Linked DNA regions of Homo sapiens. The protein of the gene in region 4 purifies or fractionates together with the protein of the main gene of each other region. This does not show direct contact. Each region holds a gene or a part of one and is shown on either strand. Other genes may lie near its edges.

Evidence for each region.
Region 1: the proteins of WASF1 (region 4) and ZC3H15 fractionate together in Homo sapiens (co-fractionation; one large-scale study listed by BioGRID). This does not show direct contact.
Region 2: the proteins of WASF1 (region 4) and NHSL1 purify together in Homo sapiens (affinity purification with mass spectrometry; one large-scale study listed by BioGRID and IntAct). This does not show direct contact.
Region 3: the proteins of WASF1 (region 4) and PCDH10 purify together in Homo sapiens (pull-down; one large-scale study listed by IntAct). This does not show direct contact.
Region 5: the proteins of WASF1 (region 4) and FNBP1L fractionate together in Homo sapiens (co-fractionation; one large-scale study listed by BioGRID). This does not show direct contact.

Annotation. Positions count from the first base shown.
Region 1 is NC_000002.12:186,496,134-186,500,338, reverse strand, and holds part of ZC3H15 (zinc finger CCCH domain-containing protein 15), read right to left. Parts: intron 158-4,205; coding exon 46-157; intron 1-45. UniProt on the Homo sapiens protein: Protects DRG1 from proteolytic degradation. Stimulates DRG1 GTPase activity likely by increasing the affinity for the potassium ions.
Region 2 is NC_000006.12:138,496,506-138,501,500, forward strand, and holds the start of NHSL1 (NHS-like protein 1), read right to left. Parts: upstream 2,990-4,995; 5' UTR 2,786-2,989; coding exon 2,728-2,785; intron 2,240-2,727; exon of another isoform or gene 792-2,239; coding exon of another isoform or gene 785-791; intron 1-784.
Region 3 is NC_000004.12:133,155,274-133,159,478, reverse strand, and holds part of PCDH10 (protocadherin-10 isoform 1 precursor), read right to left. Parts: intron 1-4,205.
Region 4 is NC_000006.12:110,120,200-110,124,404, reverse strand, and holds part of WASF1 (actin-binding protein WASF1), read left to right. Parts: intron 1-4,205.
Region 5 is NC_000001.11:93,450,601-93,454,805, reverse strand, and holds part of FNBP1L (formin-binding protein 1-like), read right to left. Parts: intron 1-4,205. UniProt on the Homo sapiens protein: Required to coordinate membrane tubulation with reorganization of the actin cytoskeleton during endocytosis. May bind to lipids such as phosphatidylinositol 4,5-bisphosphate and phosphatidylserine and promote membrane invagination and the formation of tubules.

The DNA.
Region 1 (4,205 bases), on a different chromosome or scaffold from region 4:
AACTACATTTGATAAAAAATCACACTTCTGAAATTTTAAGTTTACCTTTACTTATTTTTTGAGCAGCAACTACAGGTTTGAACAGCTCATTTAGCTCCTGCAATTCTTTCTTCTTGTCATCCTTCTTCAATTTCTTTTCAGCTTCACTCTGTGCTACCTATAATATTCCCAGGTTTAAAATGTAAATTTGATTGTTTACAAAATTGTTTTTACTACAAAGTTAGCATTACCATAACAAGACACTTGCATATTTACAGTCCTTACCTTTTAACATCAGTGTTATAATGGCCTTACAGAGTCTATTCAATGTTGTGGTTAAACTATTAAACAAAATTGTAATGATGGTACCATGCCTAGTTAAAAGCAAAAGCTTACAGCAACAAGCATTTATTAAGCACTTACTACATGCTCAGCATTTTTAGCAAATAGTTTTCACCTGCAATATTCTTCTGTGAAAACAACCCACTCCCCAGAAACGTACAGGTTCATTTTGAAGATGAGACAAGCAAACATCCTGAAATGTACAGTCCCACATGATAATGAATTATACCACCCCAAAAACCTATATAGTGCCCTCATGGAAAAACACTGGGTTAGGTCAATGTAGGATATTAAACAAAACAATTCAAAACAAAACATGACATATAACATAGTTCCAGGCACACGATTTACATACCTAATATGATTAGAGGATTCATCCAAACATTTATACGTCAGGTCCTATGTTAGATGACAGAGAATACAATGAAAAGACAAAGATGCTTATTTAAAGAAGCTCAGAATCTAGCAGGATGACAGACATGTCAACAACTGTAACATAGTACATAGTGCTCTGGGAACAAAGAATGCCCATATACCTGAGAAAACTAAATTGAGCCAATAACCTTATGGATGAGTTTTTCTTGATGGGCAAGAAAAGAAATACAGAAAGAGCCAGCCAATGCAAAGTTACAGGGACTAGAGGAATAAAGTATGAGAAACATCAGTAAGATGCTTAGATTGCATCAGTAGCTTGAACAGAGTTCTCTCAACTGTTTAAAGTAACCCAATAACAAGGTCAGGTCACATTTTATAAAATATCAAGAGGGCAAGTTTTGTAGAGGATGGATTGGGAATCCAAGAATAAAGGCAAGAGGCTGCTGCAACTGCTGTACACAATAAAACACAAGAGCTTAAAATGAGCATTACTGGTAAGGATGGAGAAAAGGAGACAGAGCTGATAGGACTGACTGAACATGAAGTATAAAGGGGGAGGAATCTAGGATTATCATGTATATGGTTAGTGCCGTTAAACAAGACAGGGAATACAGGAGGAACAGGTTTCAGGGTAAGAGGTGAAGATGAGCTTAGTTTTAGACATACAGAGTGCAAGATGCTTACAAAGCATCTGGGTAGAGCTCTTTTGAAGGCAGATAGACATGCATATTGATTCCACTGAAATCAGAGAGGGTCTGCTTTGAGATAAAGACTTTAGAAATAGCAGCTTACAGGTAACAATTAAAACTTTGGGTATATGGTACTTAAGGAGAGCATAAAAAAGTGGCAAGAGTAAAGGACACTTCCTTGAAGAAAATCAACATAAAATGGGACAAAAGAACCTAAAAAGTCCAATAAAAAGACCTAGAAACATCAAAGAAGCAGGTAGAAAACCAGGACAAAATGTGTTCAAGAAAGAGGAAATTTTAGGAAAGGAATGGCCAAATGCTATAATTAGGTCAAAGACATCCCAAATCCTGAATATGACTCTATATGGTGGATGTGTTTAAACACAAAAAATGTTTTGAAAGAAAAAATTTAAGTCGCTTAATTTTTAATAGAAGTATCCTTTGCTCATCAGGCCCATCTCAAACATTTGTGGGGCAATGTTTGAGCAAGAATACAATGGAGGTCTACAAGCCATTTATCTAAATATTTAAAATTAGAAATCAAGTTCATGATGAATAAAATATGGTCTGTAACCCTACTCGACAAATATACCTTATGACCTGGAAGGACAGGTTCAAATTTAAAATGCTCAGACTCCATGGAGTTCCACACTGAAGCATGGCAGCAACACAAGAGTTAGCCCTGGGCTCTTTTTTCTCCTCTTCCCACCCCGTTTCATTCCATTTTGGGTGTAGGGGGAGGTAAAGGTGCAAGAAGGAAGGAAAGGGTATGGATGCAGGCTCTGTTCAAACCCTTAGCGTACACTGTTCTCTTGGCTACCTCAGACATATTGGTAGCACAATGGACAGAGATGGGCATGGTGGAGAGGCCTTTGTAGGCAGATAAACCAGGGTCAGAATGTTGTAGGAAGAGATGTTGCAAAATCTGGGTGGGTACATCCCCTTGGCTTCAGTGACTCCTTACCTGAGGGGAGACAGCAGTCTGGAGAAGACACATGTATCGCAGGGCCTAGACCAGGATACCCCCTGTCCAGCTCTAAGAGCAGCACTACTGCTCATTTCCGATGTTATATATGATGGGTAGGTACCCCATGTTCACAGATAAGTCCAGTTATCCACGCAAGTATCAAAAATATAGTATTAAATATACTATCAAAGCTAACTACCAGCACACACATTTCATAACTTTCCCAGGTTTATGAATTCTGATATCACCACTCAAAACACTTTCCACTAGAAGAAAAAGTTGGGGAAGAGAAAGCAGGATTGAAAAAGGGGCTAAGTGAAGAAAGTGAGTTCTTCTTACATATTGATATCTATATTCACCAGAAAATTTACATTATTTTCTTATTTAACCACCAGAAGAATCCAACAAAGAATAACTGCACTTCCACAGTACAGATAAAGACCAGGGTTGCTATTTAAGGATCATGTAACAAAAAAGATAGGAAGATTCACACCCAAGTCTATCTCACTGCAAGGTCTCAGCTGATCTGCCCGCCCCGGCCTCCCAAAGTGCTGGGATTACAGGCGTGAGCTCTAAACATTAATTTTTATTAAACCGGGCTATTAAGTTAGCAGTTTGGAAGAGCAATAGTTTTAGATTCTAGAATCAAGCTGGGAAAATGGATGTGAAAGGAAAGTGTTGGGTCACTGATTTGCAGACAGCATGAGCAAGAGAAATTTACTTATCTCACAAATACATATTAGCAGATTTTTAAAAAATCTGTAAACACATGAGAAATTCTTTCTTCTCTCCTACATTACAAAAATGTGTTTCCAGAAGTTAATGAAAAGGAGATAAAAATGGTGGAAAAATGTACTTTAAAAATAAAGATCCATGTCTATGAAATCTTTACAAGTGAGAGGTCTAAAGAACCTGAAAAAAAAAGGGGCTACATTTTTTTCAAATGAGTTGCCAATGGATAAACTCATTTTAAAATTCGTATGAAAGAATAAATGCCTAAGAACAACCAGGAAAAATAGAAAAGGTATACCATTTTGGGGAAAAGACTTGCCTTGAGACTTTAATGTACAGTCAAGCACAGAATTAATGACATTTAGGTCAATGAGGGACCACATATGACAGTAATCCTGTAAGGTTATAATACCATATTTTTACTCTATCTTTTCTATGTTCAGACACAAATCATTACTAATGTGTTACAACTGCCTACAGTATTCAGTACAGTAACATGCTGTATAAGTTAGAAGCCTTGGATCAATAGGCTATACCATATAGCCTAGGTGTGTAGTAGGCTGTAATATCTAGGTTTGTGTAAGTACACTCTATGATATTTGCACAATGACTAAATCGCCTAACGACACATTTCTCAGATTGTATCCACATCACTAAACAATGTATGACTATGACTGTAGGATAATAGTGGTATTTCAGTTGGATAAATGATGCTGGTGTAAGCAGCTATTCATTTAAAAGAAAACAAACTTAGTCTGGGCATGGTGGCTCACGTGTGTAATCCTAGCACTTTGGGAGGCCAAGGCAGGCGGATTGTGAGGCCACCCTGGGTGACACGGCGAAATCCCGTCTCTACAAAAAATACAAAAATTAGCTAGGTGTGGTGTCATGCGCCTGTAGTCCCAGCTACTTAGGAGGATGAGGCAGGTGGATGGCTTGAACCCAGGAGGCAGAGGCCGCAGTGAGCCAAGATCACACCATTGTATTCCTGCCTGGGCAACAGAGTGAGAACTTTAAGATATATAAAATAAATTCATATGACATAGACTATAAAAATAAAATAATTACAAATGATCTAGGAAAAACATGCAGAATCCAGTGGCAGGGGAGACCTTATAACC
Region 2 (4,995 bases), about 28 Mb from region 4:
TAGTTTTAATCTTAGATTCCAGGGGTCTCGCCCACAGTGTTTTACTTATAAAAGAAAAGCTGAAAGTGTCCACCCTCCAAACAATGTTTTCATAGAATCATTTGCTCAGTTAACTGCTTCCCAGCATTTTAGGTCCTCCCTTTACTCCAATGTTTGAAAACATCTGACAGAATTGATAGAGACCTCCAATTCCTACTTAACCCCCCTCGCACACACACAACAAATAGCAGTTACTCAACTGTATAATGCCATCGCAACAGTAAATGTTAGACTGTCCTGATAGAAATGAATTTCCTACCAGGAGGTTTATAACAAATATTCTCCCTCTACAGCATTATTTAAAGAGCATCACTGTTATAAACTCAATTACATTTTTAAAAAATTAAGCGTAAACATTCAATTTACATGTAAATGACATAGCTAATACATGTGGAGACCCATTTGTGTTACAAAATTCTCTCTGCATTTCTTGCTTTCATGAAACCCTTTTATATTAAACATTTTTAAAATTACAATGCAATTGACTCTTCCCAACACAATCCAGTTCAACTAAATTTTCCCAGCACAGAAGAGACCAAGACATTAGAGGACAAAATAACAGGTAAAATCCTGAGAGTAAGATAAATCTCTACAATAATTTTTCTTTAAATCCTCGGAGGCTTGAGACCTCTCTAGTTCATTTTTCCTGACAACACGAGCTAAGTTGGGGCATCAGTGGAGCCCAAAATGAGGCCGACAGCACCAAAACAAATTCATCAACAATGTTTTAATACTTTCTATATACCTGCCATGTAACCCAGGCATAAGAGAGACTGGAAAGGTACTGGAGAAAGTCCTTGTGCTGAGGCATTTGCTTGAGGTAGCAAGTCTAACCCCTGTAAAGCCAGCAGATACTTGAATTGTGAGTGAGGAGCAAGTCTTCCTGACTCTGATCTATGCTATAGAGTTCACACTGGGCGTATCCATGTCCCCAACATAACATGTACCTGGAAACTAGACCATAAAATGAATTCTCAAAGTAACATGAGAACACACGCATAAACTATTAAATCCATTTGAGCACATCTAAAATTCACTAAACATACTCTATAGCACAGTTATTAGGGCTACTCTAAAGATCAAATGAACCAATATACATAAAGTACTTAGCTCAAGAAATAACTCAGGTAAAACATGGTTGTGGCAGGAACAGTAAAAATTATTCTAACGAGGCCCCAAACTTTGAACTGTCACTGTCTCTTGTAAACCTGGGCCACATGCTAGCGCTCATCTCACATACCATCTTTTCTGCAGCTACTAAATTTTACAATCTTATGAATCTGAACAGGATAACTCATTTTCAAAAGGACCCCACCTTCTCCGTAAGTTGCTAAATGAGAAAATAAACATTGAGAACTAGATATCAAGTTAAAAACAGAAATGTCCATTGTGCTTTCTGCTTAGTATTTGACAAAAGCAGTATGTGAATTTGGCACCTAGTATTTCATGTAAACTCTTGTTGAGCAAATGTTTTGCATGGTGCATACAACTATCAATCTTAATACACAAAATCCACAAAGACCTGACTTAACCCTCATTTGTGTTTCAGAAGAATCTAGCATTGGGCCAAACTCACCATATGTCCCCCCAAAGTGTAGCCAGAGTTCATCACAGTGTTTTGTGCTGATGTCCATTTATTTTAAAGACTGAGTTACCATACTTCAGAGTTAGAAACTATTGAAAATGGAAACTTTTCCTATTCGACAATTTCAAATCAAATCCAAGTAATGGCATTCGTGTCTGCACCATCAATCGCACCATCGGCCCCACTGCACAGCTACCAACTGGCTCCTATGAAAAAGTCTCTTCCCCTCGTGTTCCTCACTCTCGCCAGGGCCACTTTTAATCTGTTCATCCAAAGGCAGCCTTTAGCAAGGAGCTGCAGAAAATCAGCCCACCGTGCTGCTCTTTGTAGCTTTCTCCAAAGCTCCTCTTACCAATGCCCCTACCCATGTTCATTTATCCAGTATAAGTCACTGGTCCAAACACTAAACTAAACTAAAATAAAATAAACCACCGACTATGTAAAAACAAAGCCAAGTAGTTATAAAAATTATTATTTTCAAGAGAATGAAGAAGCACCTACATTAAAGAAATGTAAGTCAATGGTAAGTACACAATAAAGCCACATCACAAAAGTTCTGTACCTTACAACAATCACTGATCAGTCTAGACAGTTTGTGCTCGAGCTCTTAAATACACAACAAAGAGTGCCAGGGAGTTTCAGGGGATTATCTCCACCAGAAATATGTGATACATTACACAGAGGCTCCCTTACCTCAGCTGCATATTTATCCAAAGAATCAAAAAATCATACACTTGATATCAAGGGAAACATAAATTAAGTACAAGAATTTCCCCCCTCTTCAAAGGACTTCTTTTGAAAAGCACAGAAGAAGTGAATTCACTTAAAACCCCAATCATAAATAAATAAGACATGCTAAGATCACATAATACTGTCCTAGAGTTACAAAAGTCTGAGGTATTTAAACAACCTGGTATAGAGTAGAGTTTAACTCATGCCTATTACGCTGTTTCACACTCTAATTTCTTCACACAAAAGAACGAAGGACCTAAAACACACACATGGACACACACACACACACACACACACAGACACACAGGGACATATACACATATGGAAACATATGCACACAATAGGTAGTAGAGAGAAAAGGAACTACTTACTTTTCTTCTTAAAAAGTTTAATTAAAGACTTAATCTTTGCATTAATGAAGACCACCATTTCCAGGGCACCTACATAGAGCTTAGAAATGTAAATCACATTAAAAGCTCAGCCCAGTAGGCAGGTGGCAAGCTTCGTCCTTCTGCTACAGATTCTAACTTTTTCTTCCCCCGGTCTCATATCCTTAGACATCTGCCCAGGCTGATGTAACTGAGGTTGAGTTTATTGTCAGGCAGTTACAAACCATTAACAGTCCTTGAACCTGAAAAACTCCTACTGAAACCTAATCTTTAAGGCTGAGAGCAGCCAGTGACATCGTGCGCTGAAAGAAAGAGAAAGCCAATCACGGTTCTTATTTGCATGACAGCCACATCAGGCTTTCTGCCTCAGTGCCCATTCATTCAGTTTTCTCTCCAACAGATCAGAAGTTCCTCCTCTCTGAGCCCACAAAAATAGTGCAGACTTTCCTCTACGGAAGTCAAGATGAAACAAATGTGTTCCCCATTTCATTAGGCCCCTATGAACACCCAGATCTTTTACAGGAGCTGCCAAGTCTGACAGCAATTCCAGTTAATTCAGGGTATATGGGATTTGAACTGATTTAGGGGGGAAAAAAACCAAACTATTGTTTCCCAACCACGCCCCAGGCTCTGCCTCCGATACCAAAGGAACTTGTACAAGCAGTAAAACTTTAGAATAGAATCTCCAAGGAGCTGCAAATGATGACTTGGTTGCATTTTTGTGCAAATTAGGATGCTCTGTCTTCTCACCCTTCTTTGCCAGTGATTGAGAATCAGCATTGTGTGTTCCAAAGCATGATCTTATTTGCATCTAGCTGCCACAACAATCAAGAAAAAAAAAAATCCACCAAAAAAAATACAACTTCCCCACTCCAAATGATAAATTAGATAAAGTACCCTAATCATTTTAATCTTTATTTTATATGTAATTGTCACTTAGGCTCCTGGTTTTCAGAATTCCATAATCGCCCTTCCCTCAATGTTGTCTCAAACAAACATTATCTGAGTTACTCTTTAACTTGAATCTACCATCCAGAGTGCTGGTTCTTTTGCCCATTGGCAATTAACCACAGAGAACTAGGGAAGCACAAGTAGAGACAGAGAAATCAGAAACAGAGTATAAGAAGGCACTGAAAAAACATATTCCAGGGGTAAAGGGATAGGAAAAAAGAGGAGAATATAGATCCGGAAATACTATGACAACGGAAAAAGGAAAAGAATCTTCCTCACATCTCAGCCCAGTTCCACTTCATGGCCAAACACTTTTGAAACAATTTAGACAACCTCTTATTTCATAGCTTTGGGCCAGACTTATAACTCAATGGAAAAATGTAATAATCCACTAATTCAAAACATTTAGTTTATAACAAAGGCTCTTAGTCAAAGAATAAAATTTATATAAGGGGCTCTGTCTAGGGAAAGCTTTGAAATGATTCCTTCTCAGGTCTTTTTATGCCCTTTATTTTTTCAACAACAACAAAACAAAAGAACACATAGGGGAAAGCTTTGAAATGATTCCTTCTCAGGTCTTTTTATGCCCTTTATTTTTTCAACAACAACAAAACAAAAGAACACATAGAAACGTTACCATCTTATCATACATATTATCACAGATTTCCAATTTGTGTTATTTCATTTTATATATAGCTTTATTTTAAAGTAATTAAATTGCCAGATGGCAAATGAGAAACGACTGAGCCTGTAAGTCAGATTATGTGGCTGCCTTAAATTAGCGGGCAAAGTTCCCCTTTGGAAAACAAATTTATCTGCAAGAGTGACCTCGCTCTGCTCATTGCATTAGACACAAGGAGAGTTGTGGGCAAAAACACTCATATGCACAATCCACAAGTGTTTGAGGTTAAGTGTCACCATGCAAATGTCCAGTGAAAACAGAAATTGTTCTTTCAAGAAACTCTGATTATGCTCAACCCTCCATAGCATGTAGCTTTCCATGTGCTCAACAATGGCATCTGAATATAGATTCGTTCATCAGAAAGATAAATACCAGGCACCGATGCTAACTGCTACTCTTTCATTTCATTGGGATACATCATTGGACAAAATAGGTGAGATCCCTGCCCTCATGGAGCTTAAATTATTTGACACTGAACTACAATTTTGTGGTATATTAGAAGGAGTTGAGTGCAACAGACAAAATAAAAAAGTTAAGCAACATAAAAGGGGGTTTGAGGGTGGCCAGGCTGCAGCATCGTAGGAGTCAGGGTGGTCCTCGTGAAAAGTCGAGATTTG
Region 3 (4,205 bases), on a different chromosome or scaffold from region 4:
TAATAAATGTTTCAACATATACCTTTTACTTGCAATCTCTTTTTCTAGTTATTTATTTTTTCCACTTTTCAGAAATAATCTGTTCTGCAAGGGATGATAGCTGATGTGATAGACTGCCTGTTATGCAAAGATATATTTAGACAAATTTTAAAGTACATGGTTTTCAACTGGCAAGTAACTTGTCCTGTACACTCACAGGCAGTGGATATTTCCATTGAGACCAAATTGTGATTTCAAAAATTTTAGAATTCAATTTGTGCTACTTTTTCGGTGACTGTCATAATACAATATTGCGTGAACATTTCTTTTTGTGCAACAAGCTTTCATTCAAAGCGTTTATTTTTTTCCAAATATGATAAATTAATTTTAAAGAAGATATAAAACTTTTCATTTTTTGAGATTTCTAGTCCTCTTTTAACGACTTAAAATACATTAATTGTAACCACAAAAATTGCAGTATGTTTTAGAAAAACATGGTTTTGAAGCAGATAGTTATTAACATAACTCACTCATGAAAAAAATCAAAATATGCCCATCAAAATTTTCTCCCTACCAATAATCTTTCAAAATGTATATATTTTTCACCATTTCCTCTCAATATTTCATCTTCTATATTGCCTCCAGTTATAAATCTCTGCACATTTTCAAGTTGCAGCTCAAAGTTTCACCAGTGAATAAGGTTTTATAAATACTGGTGTAAATCCATTTTATATATAAACCCAAAATCAAACTTGGCAATTATCTAAATTCTTAATGGAGTTTGGAAATAGGTATTTGTGTTTATAATAAACCAAGAATTCTATTGCTGACACTGTAGTAATGCACTGGCTTAATGCATTTCAATGGTATATTTTATCTACTAATTTGAAATTATTGACCAATCAAATCACTTTATTTTTAAAATTCATAGCCAAATTTTGACCATGCATTATATCTATAATTAGTTAGAAACTAAACATATTTGGAAGATAAGTTCTCCTATAACTGAAAGAAAAAATTATTGAAGAGAAATTTGACAATTTTCAGAGAATGTCTAACAAGTAATTCAATCACTTATTAGGATTATCTCTTCAACATATTTTTTTAAAGGCACAAGGTATTAAAAATAAATCTATAATTAAGCTTAGCATTATTGACAATGTAGGTATTTTATAACGGGAAAAGCAACCTCTCACTACTAAACAGATCACTTTAGATATACCTCAAATAATATTAAAATGTTTAAGAATATACAATTTAAAATATTCTATCTGTATCCTAAAATAGAAGAAATAATTATGCTTTAATGATATAATAAAGTTGAAAATATATTTCTTTAAAGTCCAATTCTTTGGCTGTTTAAGCTGTGATTAATCAGTTTTTCCTCTTGTGATGGTTTATGTCTGCATTTGCCACTTCTCCTTGGACTACTGCCATATCTAACCAATACATCAATAGTTCACTGAAAAAAACGGGAAGCACCTTGACAAGGCTATAGAAAGAAAGTGCCACAGAGCAGTGGTCAAGGCGAAGAATTTCACACATGGAGCCAGGTGCAGTGGAAAACTGAAAAAGCTTATGTGATTCTCTGTGCAGCTGCCTTCGTGTTTAAAGCCCTTCTATGAACAACATTGGTGACGGCAAATGGCTTAGAAAAAAGAAAAGCAAGAAGGAGGGGGTGGAAGATAGAACAAAAAAAGAAAACTATTCATAAAAGAATAAATAGAAGGCATATCTAAATAAATAATACAGAATAATGTTAATGTAGAAAAAGAAATAGGAATAAAGAAAAAGGAAGTTTAAACAGGTGAAGCACTAAGCTAAATAGTCTGTACACTATAGTGTGGAATATGGTACAAACTGAAAGAGAGAATTCGGAGTCTCTATCTTTCCAATGTTAGTTTTGCTTGATAATCTAACTTTTCCCTACTAAAACCTAGTTAAGTGAGATTTGCTTATTATAACACAAGGTTTTTTTCCTATCCTGAACTTAGAAAGCTATGCTATGAGTAATATTACCTAATTTTGCAAAATTGGAAAATCATTAATATCTGGCTTTACAATGAAATAAAACAGATTTATCTGAAATGGGCTTAAATTTTTGGAAATAGTCTAGCTGCCTGATGTGAGGTTTATAGTACATAACAGCAGTATGGATTGAAAAAAGTCTTTAAGCAAATGCATTTTAATTCTCTGCATTTGAGGTTTTATACTTAAAAAAGAAAACACTTCAAAATTATTCTTACAATAAAATTAGACATTAAATCTGATTGCAATTCAGCACACAAAGGTGCAATCACTTCTTAACATAAGTGCTTTATTACAATCCTAAAATAGCTATTATTGTGCCCAGTATGTTGTGGCTGCCGTGTAACTACTAATAAGATACATAAAAGGATTGTTAATTCTGTAACACTTTTACATGTTTAAGAACTTAAAGATACAAAAAAATTTTAACATTTTGATAAAAACAAAAACTGCCTGGCTGAAATGTTTTCCACAACACATTTTAACATTTTAGTATTCTTTTAAATGCTTTGACATCTCCAATAATTTGAAAGAAACATTACAGAAATGGTAACACTGAGTGACTGTGAAATAAAGTAGCTACTGGGAAGATGCACTGATAAGAATATGTTCTCATCTATCTTCCAAATTTGGCTCTTTTGCAGATGTTTATTCATTTCTCTTTCTTCAGTTAGGTTATTATGGGTCATTATGTCTGAGGGACTAAACTAATTGAAATGTTCATTGAGATTGAAGTGCTACAGGAAAAACAAAGCGGGGCGTGTGGGGTGGGAAAGGAGTAAAATGCATCCAAAGAAACATGCAACAGATACTCTTTAAAACATTAAACATTTTGTTTTAAAAGTTTTAAAAGGTTGACAGTTAAATTAGAAACTCTGAAAAAGAACAGGAATGAGCAATGCTAAATGTACAGTTTTTAAAGATAACAATAAATCATATGCCATATATAGGGCAAAAATGAAAGGGACTTTGTACGCACATATAAACTTCTGGCAAGATCTGGTTTGTTGTCAGGTTCCCAGACACTAAATAGATGCTCTGTTCACTTAGCGTGAAGGCCCGCAAGGGGCAGAGACCTCCGGGGATTCTTGGCAGTTCTCAAGTCTCATTAGGCCTGCATATTAATGACTCACAGCAATATAAAGAGACCCTTGAGCAGCCTTTTTTCCCTTCCTCCTGCCTGGGTTTCCCAAGGCTAAGGCAGCCACAGACACAGCACACATTAGCCAAGTGAGAGGCTTGTAGCAACCACTGCTGCCAGGCCACCATGGGGTGTACGCTGCCCTTTGACACACTGCCTCAGCACCATCCAGAGGTCCACAAGTGTGTTAAGGAATGGGTGCTCTCGAGGACTAATATCACCTTGAAAATGAGAACCTATCACTCTATGGTTATATTATTAAGTAAAATAAAGGTCCAGTCTCAAGAGAGTTGAACCCAAAGACAGTCTAAGATCGACATTTTCAGGAGTTAGAAAAGTTGACTAGCCTTTCTATTTCTTCATGTGTCAAATAAACACAAAACTAGATAGAAAAAGTAAAATATTCAACAAACACCCTTCAAAGATGAAAACCAAAAAATTAGGAAGGACACCAGAAGTTTATTAAATCATTTTCATTTTAACATACATATTTTATTTCATGTAAGAGTTTCCTTTTAGTATTAGTAATAAGAGTTACCAGGATCTCATAAAACTTGACTTTCTAAAAAGAAAAGTGAAATAAAATGAATATATAGCACATTGAAACCTATCAGTGACTACCATCAAGCCCACAAACAAATATACTCAGAGTTCACCTTTTGATGTGTCATGGACCCTGTTGAAAATATGAAGAAACCAAGGACACTTCAAAAAATACACATTATCACATATTACCTAACGTTCTGAAGCCTAAGACTCAAGATTAGAAACTCTGTTTTCAATCCATTAATGACTTTTAATCACCATTACTTTTCTCATTCAATACTTGGTGGTGTGTAAAATGCATTGCCCTGGAAAACAAGAAATGTGGATTCTAGTCTTCAATCATCCATTTATCTTCTTGTGACCTTGTGCAGGTCAATCAATTTTATTTATCTTCAGTTATCTCATCCATAAACAAGTTTAAGAATACCTTAATTGACTGAAGACTGGTAACTGGACCAAGTGAGAGAGCTATGTCTTTCTGTATGCAATGTGTCCATTAAAGAACATTACA
Region 4 (4,205 bases):
GAGTAGAATTTATTAAGTGAAAGGAAAGCTCTCAGCCAAGAGAGGGGTCCTGAAAGCAGGTTCCAGGTTGCCCCGTCACAGTTGAATACAAGGGCATATATATATATATATATATATATATATATATATAGAGAGAGAGAGAGAGAGAGAGAGAGAGAGAGAGAGAGAGGAGAGAGAGGAGAGAGAGGAGAGAGAGAGAGAGAGAGAGAGAGACGCTGATGGGGCTGGGTTCCCTATTTGTATGAGGCACAGATTACTGGTGGCTTCACCACATTTCCCTAGTGCACATGCAGGCCCTTAGTCTGCTGTGGGCATGTTTAAGCAAGCCCCCTGTGCAAGTTCCCTTATCTGCACAAAGCATCTGGTGTAAGCCCTTGTGGGGTGGGTCAGAGGTTCTCTGGGGACCCTTCCCTTACTGTCTGCCTAAAGCAAGCTAGCTAACTCCTTTCATTAACAACCACTGGGATTCTGAATACCTAAGGGATCTCTTCCCCTGGCTTTTCTCTTATGGAATATAGTCAGTTCTTATTGCCAAGATTAGTCTTTTCCATCTCTGTATCTACACCTAGCATTTGTATCCCTACCAATTGTTGAATAAATGAGTAACTTTATACCTGCTTTTTCTTCCATTTGGGATGCTTCCCTTATCTGCCAGAGAAACTGTCTCTGGAAGTATCTTGATCACCAAATAACTTTTGACACCTGAAAGTGAGGTGCTTCTATCTCTGCTGTGTTGCTCTTACCTTATATTAAGAGCTGCCTGTTATTGGGCTCCTCTGTATGAGGTGCACTTCAAGGCTCTTTTCTTGCTTCTTTTAGAGACAGATGTTTTTATTCCTATTTTACAGATAAGGAAATTGATACCAAGGTCTCACAGTGAATAGAACAAATATTAGGACTTATCTATTAAATTGCTTTAAATATTTGCTTAAATGTCTGGTTCTCCCTCTGCTCAAAATTCAGTAATGGCAGGGATCTTCTTCAAGTTATTTTGGCTTACTCTTTTCAGTAATAAGAACTTACACAACTAGAGGAATACAGTGATTTTAGATTTATGATTTTTTTTTTTCAGAAGTTGTAACAAGAGGGTGTAAAAGATCTCCTAAATTTCTGAATCTATATCTTGGGCATCCCTGGGACAGATAATCTTCTAGGTCTTTGATGAATCTTGGGTTCTGCTACTTGGCCTAAAATTTATTTCTAGCTAATATAAATGCTGATTATATATAAATGCTGATTATATATAAATGCTACAGTCTACATATAAATGCTTTCAGATTGACAGGCATATTATTTGCATATACCTTTACATCATAATCTTCTCTAACCCTCATCAGGTGGACAGATATAGATAAAGCAAGTAATTTCCATTTTAGACACAAATCATTTAACAGAAAGTAGTAGAACAAGGTTTAAAAGCAGGCTTCCCAGGGTATCTCTTTTTTTTTCCCCACTTTGTCATGGCTGGGTGACTTTAGATAGGGTTTAAAGTTTAAAATACAGTTGGCCCTTGAACAGTGTAGGGGTAAGGGGCACAGATCCTCAGTGAAGCCAGAAATTTGCATATAACTTTTGACTCCCCCAAAACTTAACTGCCTATAGCCTACTATTGACCAGAAGCCTTACCGAGAACATAAACTGTTGCTTAACATGTATATTTTATGTTGTATGTGTAGTAGTATACTGTATTCCTACAATAAGGTAAGCTAGAGAAAAGAATATGTTATTAAGAAAACCATAAGAAAAAATATACTTACTGTTCATTAATTGGAAGTGGATCATCATAAAAGTCTTCATCCTCGTTATCTTCACATTGAGCAGACCAAAGAGGAGAAGGAAAAGGAGGAGTTTGTCTTGCTGTCTCAGGAGTAGCAGAGGCAGAGAGGTGGAGGAGGTAGAAGTAGTAGAGGTGGGCACACTGGTGTAACTTTACAAAAACACATCTTGATTTCTGACTTTTTTGCTTCTTCATTTCTCTAAAAATGTTTTTATATGGTACCAATCCTCCTTTTATTTGCTTTAGTTTTGGTACTGTATCATAGAAGGGTTCACGTTGTAAAATAAATCAAAAGTAGTCTTGAATAATTGGAACGCTTTTGCCAGATTCTCTAATGTCAATTTGTTTTCTGACACCACTTCTTCTATGTCTTCTTTTTTTTTTTTTTGGATTCCATTTTTTAAAATCGGAGATCTGCTTCTTTACTTTCTTTCTTATTTATTATGATACTTTAAGTTCTATGGTACATGTGCATAGTGTGCAGGTTTGTTACATAGGTATACATGTGCCATGGTGGTTTGCTGCACCCATCAACTCGTCATTTACATTAGGTATTTTTTCCTAATGCTATCCCTCCCCCAGCCCCCGACCCTCCGACAGACCCGGGTATGTGATGTTCCCCACCATGTGTCCATGTGTTCATGTTGTTCAATTCCCACCTAGGAGTGAGAACATCTGGTGTTTGGTTTTCCAACCTTGTGATAGTTTTTTTAGAATGATGGTTTCCAGCTTTATACATGTCCCTGCAAAGGACATGAACTCATCCTTTTTTATGGCTACATAGTATTCCATGGTGTATATGTACCACATTTTCTTAATCCAGTCTATCATTGATGGACATTTGGGTTGGTTCCAAGTCTTTACTATTGTAAATAGTGCCACAATAAACATACATGTGCATTTGTCTTTATAGTAGCATGATTTATAATCCTTTGGGTATGTACCCAGTAATGGGATCGCTGGATCAAATGGTATTTCTAGTTCTAGATCCTTGAGGAATTGCCACACTGTCTTCCACAATGGTTGAACTGACTTACACTCTCACCAATAGTGTAAAAGTGTTCCTATTTCTCCACATCCTCTCCAGCATCTGTTGTTTCCTGACTTTTTAATGATCACCATTCTAACTGGCATGAGATGGTATCTCCTTGTGGTTTTGATTTGCATTTCTCTGATGACCAGGGATGATGAGCATTTTTTCATATGTCTGTTGGCTGTGTAAATGTCTTCTTTTGGGAAGTGCCTGTTCATATCCTTTGTCCACTTTTTGATCGGGTTGTTTTTTTTCTTATAAATTTGTTTAAGTTCTTTGTAGATTCTGGATATTAAGCCTTTGTCAGATGGGTAGATTGCAAGGATTTTCTCCCATTCTGTAGGTTGCCTGTTCACTCTGATGGTAGTTGCTTTTGCTGTGCAGAGGCTCTTTAGTTTATTTAGATCCCATGTGTCTATTTTGGCTTTCTTGCCATTGCTTTTGGTGTTTTAGTCATGAAGTGTTTGCCCATGCCTATGTCCTGAATGGTATTGCCTAGGTTTTCTTCTAGGGTTTTTATGGTGTTAGGTCTTACATTTAAATCTTTAATCCATCTTGAGTTAATTTTTGTATACGGTGTAAAGAAGGGATCTAGTTTCAGCTTTCTTCATATGGCTAGCCAGTTTTCCCAGCACCATTTATTAAATAGGGAATCCTTTCCCCATTTCTTGTTTTTGTCAGGTTTGTCAAAGATCAGATGGTTGTAGATGTGTGGTGTTATTTCTGAGGGCTCTGTTCTGTTCCATTGGTCTATATCTCTGTTTTGGTACCAGTACCATGCTGTTTTGGTTACTGTAGCCTTGTAGTGTAGTTTGAAGTCATGTAGCGTGATGCCTCCAGCTTTGTTCTTTTGGCTTAGGATTGTCTTGGCTATGCAGGCTCTTTTTTTGTTCCATATGAACTTTAAAGTAGTTTTTTCCAATTCTGTGAAGAAAGTCATTGGTAGCTTGATGGGGATAGCATTGAATCTATAAATTACCTTGGGTAGTATGGCCATTTTCACGGTATTGATTCTTCCTATCCATGAACATGGAATGTTCTTCCATTTGTTTGTGTCCTCTTTTATTTCGTTGAGCAGTGGTTTGTAGTTCTCCTTGAAGAGGTCCTTCACATCCCTTGTAAGTTGGATTCCTAGGTATTTTATTCTCTTTGTAGTAATTGTGAATGGGAGTTCACTCATGATTTGGCTGTTTGTCTGTTATTGGTGTATAAGAATGCTTGTGATTTTTGCACATTGATTTTGTATCCTGAGACTTCGCTGAAGTTGCGTATCAGCTTAAGGAGATTTTGAGCTGAGACAATGGGGTTTTCTAAATATACAATCATGTCATCTGAAAACAAGAGACAATTTGACTTCCCCTTTTCCTAATTGAATACCCTTTATTTCTTTCTCTT
Region 5 (4,205 bases), on a different chromosome or scaffold from region 4:
ATATGTGTAAATAGTTGTTATGCTGTATTGTTTTTAGATCTGTATTATTTTTATTGTTGTATGATTGTTTTAATTAGTATTTCCAGTCCATGGTTGGTTGAATCCACAGACGTGGAAATCAAATGATATGGAGGGCCTACAGTATACAGTCACAGATAAAGGGAAAATAAAAAACAATATAAACGAGCTGTAGTAATAATATATATTTAAAAATAAAACTAATTTCAAATTAGTAACATATTATTAAAGGAAATAACATCCTTCAAATATTCTTGCAGCGGCGCTAAAATAAATACACTTTCATCTTCTAAAACCCAGAGGTATTCCCCTCCTGCCACCAAAGTATTCAGAAGCAAGAGGTAATCCCTTCTACCAATAAACTAAGATTTTCTTCTGTGAATTTTTAAATGGTCTGAAAAGTGGTTTGATTATATACAAATGTGTAACTACACACACACACACACACACAGACACACCCATACACACACACAAGAGGTTCATGAATCAAGCAATCAGCCAGACCAACCTCTTTGCCTGCCTGGTTCCAGTCTACCCTTCATCACTACTTTCAGACATTGTGCACTCAAATTCAAGTCAAACGCAACACTAGACTCAGGTCAGTCCAACAAACATTTATTAAAGACCCTACTAATGTCAGGCTAATCCAGGCAGGATACAGCAATGAATCAGACAATGAATAAGCAATGAGTAAGACACAATATCTGCCCTCTAGGAACCTGTCAGGAACCCCCACCTGCATAACCCTTCTTATTCCAAAACCTAGGTCAAATGACAGTCTTCCTAAAGATTTTCCTGTGATACCTAGAATGAAAAGTCACTTTTCATAGCCCTAAAGTCCATCTATTACTTTCTAGTTGTTTTAGGGTTGCTTTGAGGCTCATGCTGATATCTAATTGATTCTTTTAGTATGCCCCACAAAGCCTAGCTTAGTGCTGAAGCCATAATAGGCATGAAATAAACATCTGTTGAATGAACAAGCATCAGTCCTGTTTACGTGTTTCAGGTGTATTAGATAGACATGGCCTGAACTGAAATATGGAACGGCTTTCACATTCTATAGAACAAAACCTTTACATAACCTTTCCTACCAGTTTTTAATATTCTATAGATATATTCCCCAAGACAGATTTTTTTTTGCTATTGAAGTGAAAATGTTTAAAGATTGAAGATTATTAAATAAGACAGCACTTGTTGATATACACAGAAGGTATTTGACATTTATAAGCCATTACTATTTCTCTTACTATTTCCTCTCTACAAACTAGCTGACAGAGGAAAAAGTTGGTAGAATAGGTTTTTTTAAAGTTTCCAGCCAAAATCATATTTTATAGGTTTATAGGGTGGGGGAAGGAGAGAGAGCAAATATTTTAAGAAAAAGGCAAAGAAAGCAAGCAAATGGAAGTAAATGGAGTATGAGTGGCTATGCAAAGGAGATACTGGTTAGAGGCAGCTCTCTAGCTTCCAACTTATTATAGTCATTATGGAATGGTGACATAAACAGATATCTTGATACCTCTCACTCATCCTCCTTAACTAATAGCAATAACGTCTGTAATACAATGTTGAACACAACAATTTCTACCAACAAAAGGGAATGTAAGATATTTAAGTATTTATACCATGACAATTTCCCTAAGATTTGAATACACAAGAAATAACTATAATAACCGTAATATAAGGTGGTAGTCCCATAAGACAATATCCAGAATGGGTAGTCTGGAGGCATGGGGTTGATAGGAATTGGTCAACAGAGGGCATTCTGGGCAGTGGTATCAATGTAGGGAAGTATTTTGGAGTTTACAGTAAAGTTATATCATCTCAAAGCAACTCTACCTTTTGTCAGGGCAGGGCCAATATCATAAGCCTTCATAAATCTCACCAAACATAACAGTGCTTCCCAAATAATAGACACAAAATTATTGTATTTTTAAAACAAAACTGAATTCCTACAGCAGTTTCACGGCCTTTCATTTACTTTTGGAGAAGCAATTCAGTTTACATTAATAATGAATTTTCTTTGTCAACCTCCTCTAGACAAGCACCCTCCAAAAAATGTGAAGTAAAATTAAAGTCAATATTATAGACAGTCCCAGCTTCTTGAGAGCTTAAGGAAGGACGATTGTGGAGCACAGAGTTCAAGACTGGCCTGAGAATATAGCAAGACCCCATCTCTAAAAATATACATATATATTACAGATATGGTCTAACCAGTAGACTATGAGACCCAATTCCTTTGTTACAGATAAATCTATTAATGTGGCCTAAGATTTCACCAATTATTTAGGCAGTCACATTACCAAGCTATCAATCAAGTAAATTCACCAGAAATTACCTGTAGGTCTTTTCTTCCCCATCCTTTTACCATTTTACTTGACAAAAATGTTTAACCCAAGTAGTAAAACTTAACTTTATAATTTTGGTTTCAGCTTTAGACTTTCTTGAGCTGTTATCCAGATCACCTAACCTATCACCATCTACAAAGGCCTTCAGAACCCTAAAGATACACTTGCTAATTAGTAATCAATACTCTGGGTAATGCAATCAACTATTAATGCAATTGGGCAAAACATGCATGATCACCTACAAGCATTGTCTTGGTCAGTGAAAACAAAGATGAATCCAGCCTTTCTACACTCAAGGACAATCTAGTCACTTACAATGTAAATTTAAGTGCTATATAAAGTGTTATGAAGCCAAGATAATAAAGTATTAAAAGGTTAACACTGAGGATAATACATAAATTATCCACCTAATCTATCACTCAACCCACATTTTTCAGTTTCTTCCAAAAAGATATAAGCTTTGTCAAATGCATTTAGTTAATAATATGATGAAGACCGGGCACGGTGGCTCACGCCTGTAAACCCAGCACTTTGAGAGGCCGAGGCGGGCGGATCACAATGTCAGGAGTTCAAGACCAGCCTGGCCAACGTGGTGAAAACCTGTTTCTACTAAAAATACAAAAATTAGTCGGGCATGGTGGTGTGCACCTGAAATCCCAGCTACTCGGGGGGCTGAGGTGGGAGAATGGCTTGAACCAGGGAGGCTGAGGTTGCAGTGACCCGAGATCGCACCACTGCACTCCAGGCTAGGCAACAGAAGAGACTCCATCTCAAAAATAATAATAATATAAATAATATGATGAAAATAACAATGGCTTTTAAATTACACATTCTTAAACTAAGGGCCAAAGATTATATCGACCAAGAAATTAAGGCATAAAAAAGATTTATATGCACTTATAAATTAAATCAGATATTTGAATCCATCTTCTAACTACCAGACTTGTCCAGCATTTTCCTTGGGTAGCAAATTTTTCAGTAAATCATATGAATGTGAGGTGCTCAGCCATATATTTTTTTCATATTTATACACACATTCACAACCCATACACAGATTTTTTCTGTCGAACTTTAACTAGGTCCTCAAAAACTAAAAACCTATTTCTTAATAAGTAAAACTTATTTACTAAACATAGGTCTTTTCCAATCTCTAATGTCCCTATCTGTTAAAAAAAAGCTAGTAATTTCAAAATCTGTGCTTTGTGAAATTATTAATTCATATTTGGCTATCTGATCCATCCATTCTTGCTATGTAATAAAGAAATGAACACAATAAGCAATGCCTAAGATGTTACCACGCATCCTGAAGAAGTGAAGACAGTATCATCTCTTTCCTTGGTATTACCCAGAATACAATGCAAAACTGTGACTGTAGTATATATTCACTAACTTATTTACTCATTTGGAACACTAGAAATCCCTGTAAGCACAGCTCAAATTTATTACAAGTTAATTCATATCCCCTAACAACTACGCAACCAAAGTCTGACACGATCCACTCAGCACATCACTACAAAAGTCCCCCAAAGTCAGTATTAGAGCCGTTCTATTGAATTCCTTTTTTTCTCAAATTTAACATAAGACTTAAGAAGCATTAAAATAGCAATAAAAATTCCAATGATTGTTACAAGAAACAGACTCAGGTTTAAGTGCATGGCTACATATCATTTTTCTGTAACAACATATTCTCAATAATTAACTCTTTGGGACAGTAATGTGATTCTAAATATGAAATAATAGGAGAACTGGTTTCTAAATCCAAAATTTCGAGAGAATTTCCCAACCTCAAATTCCTCAATGGCAAGAGCACAGTACAGGTTGTTTGTATTACATTACAATCCA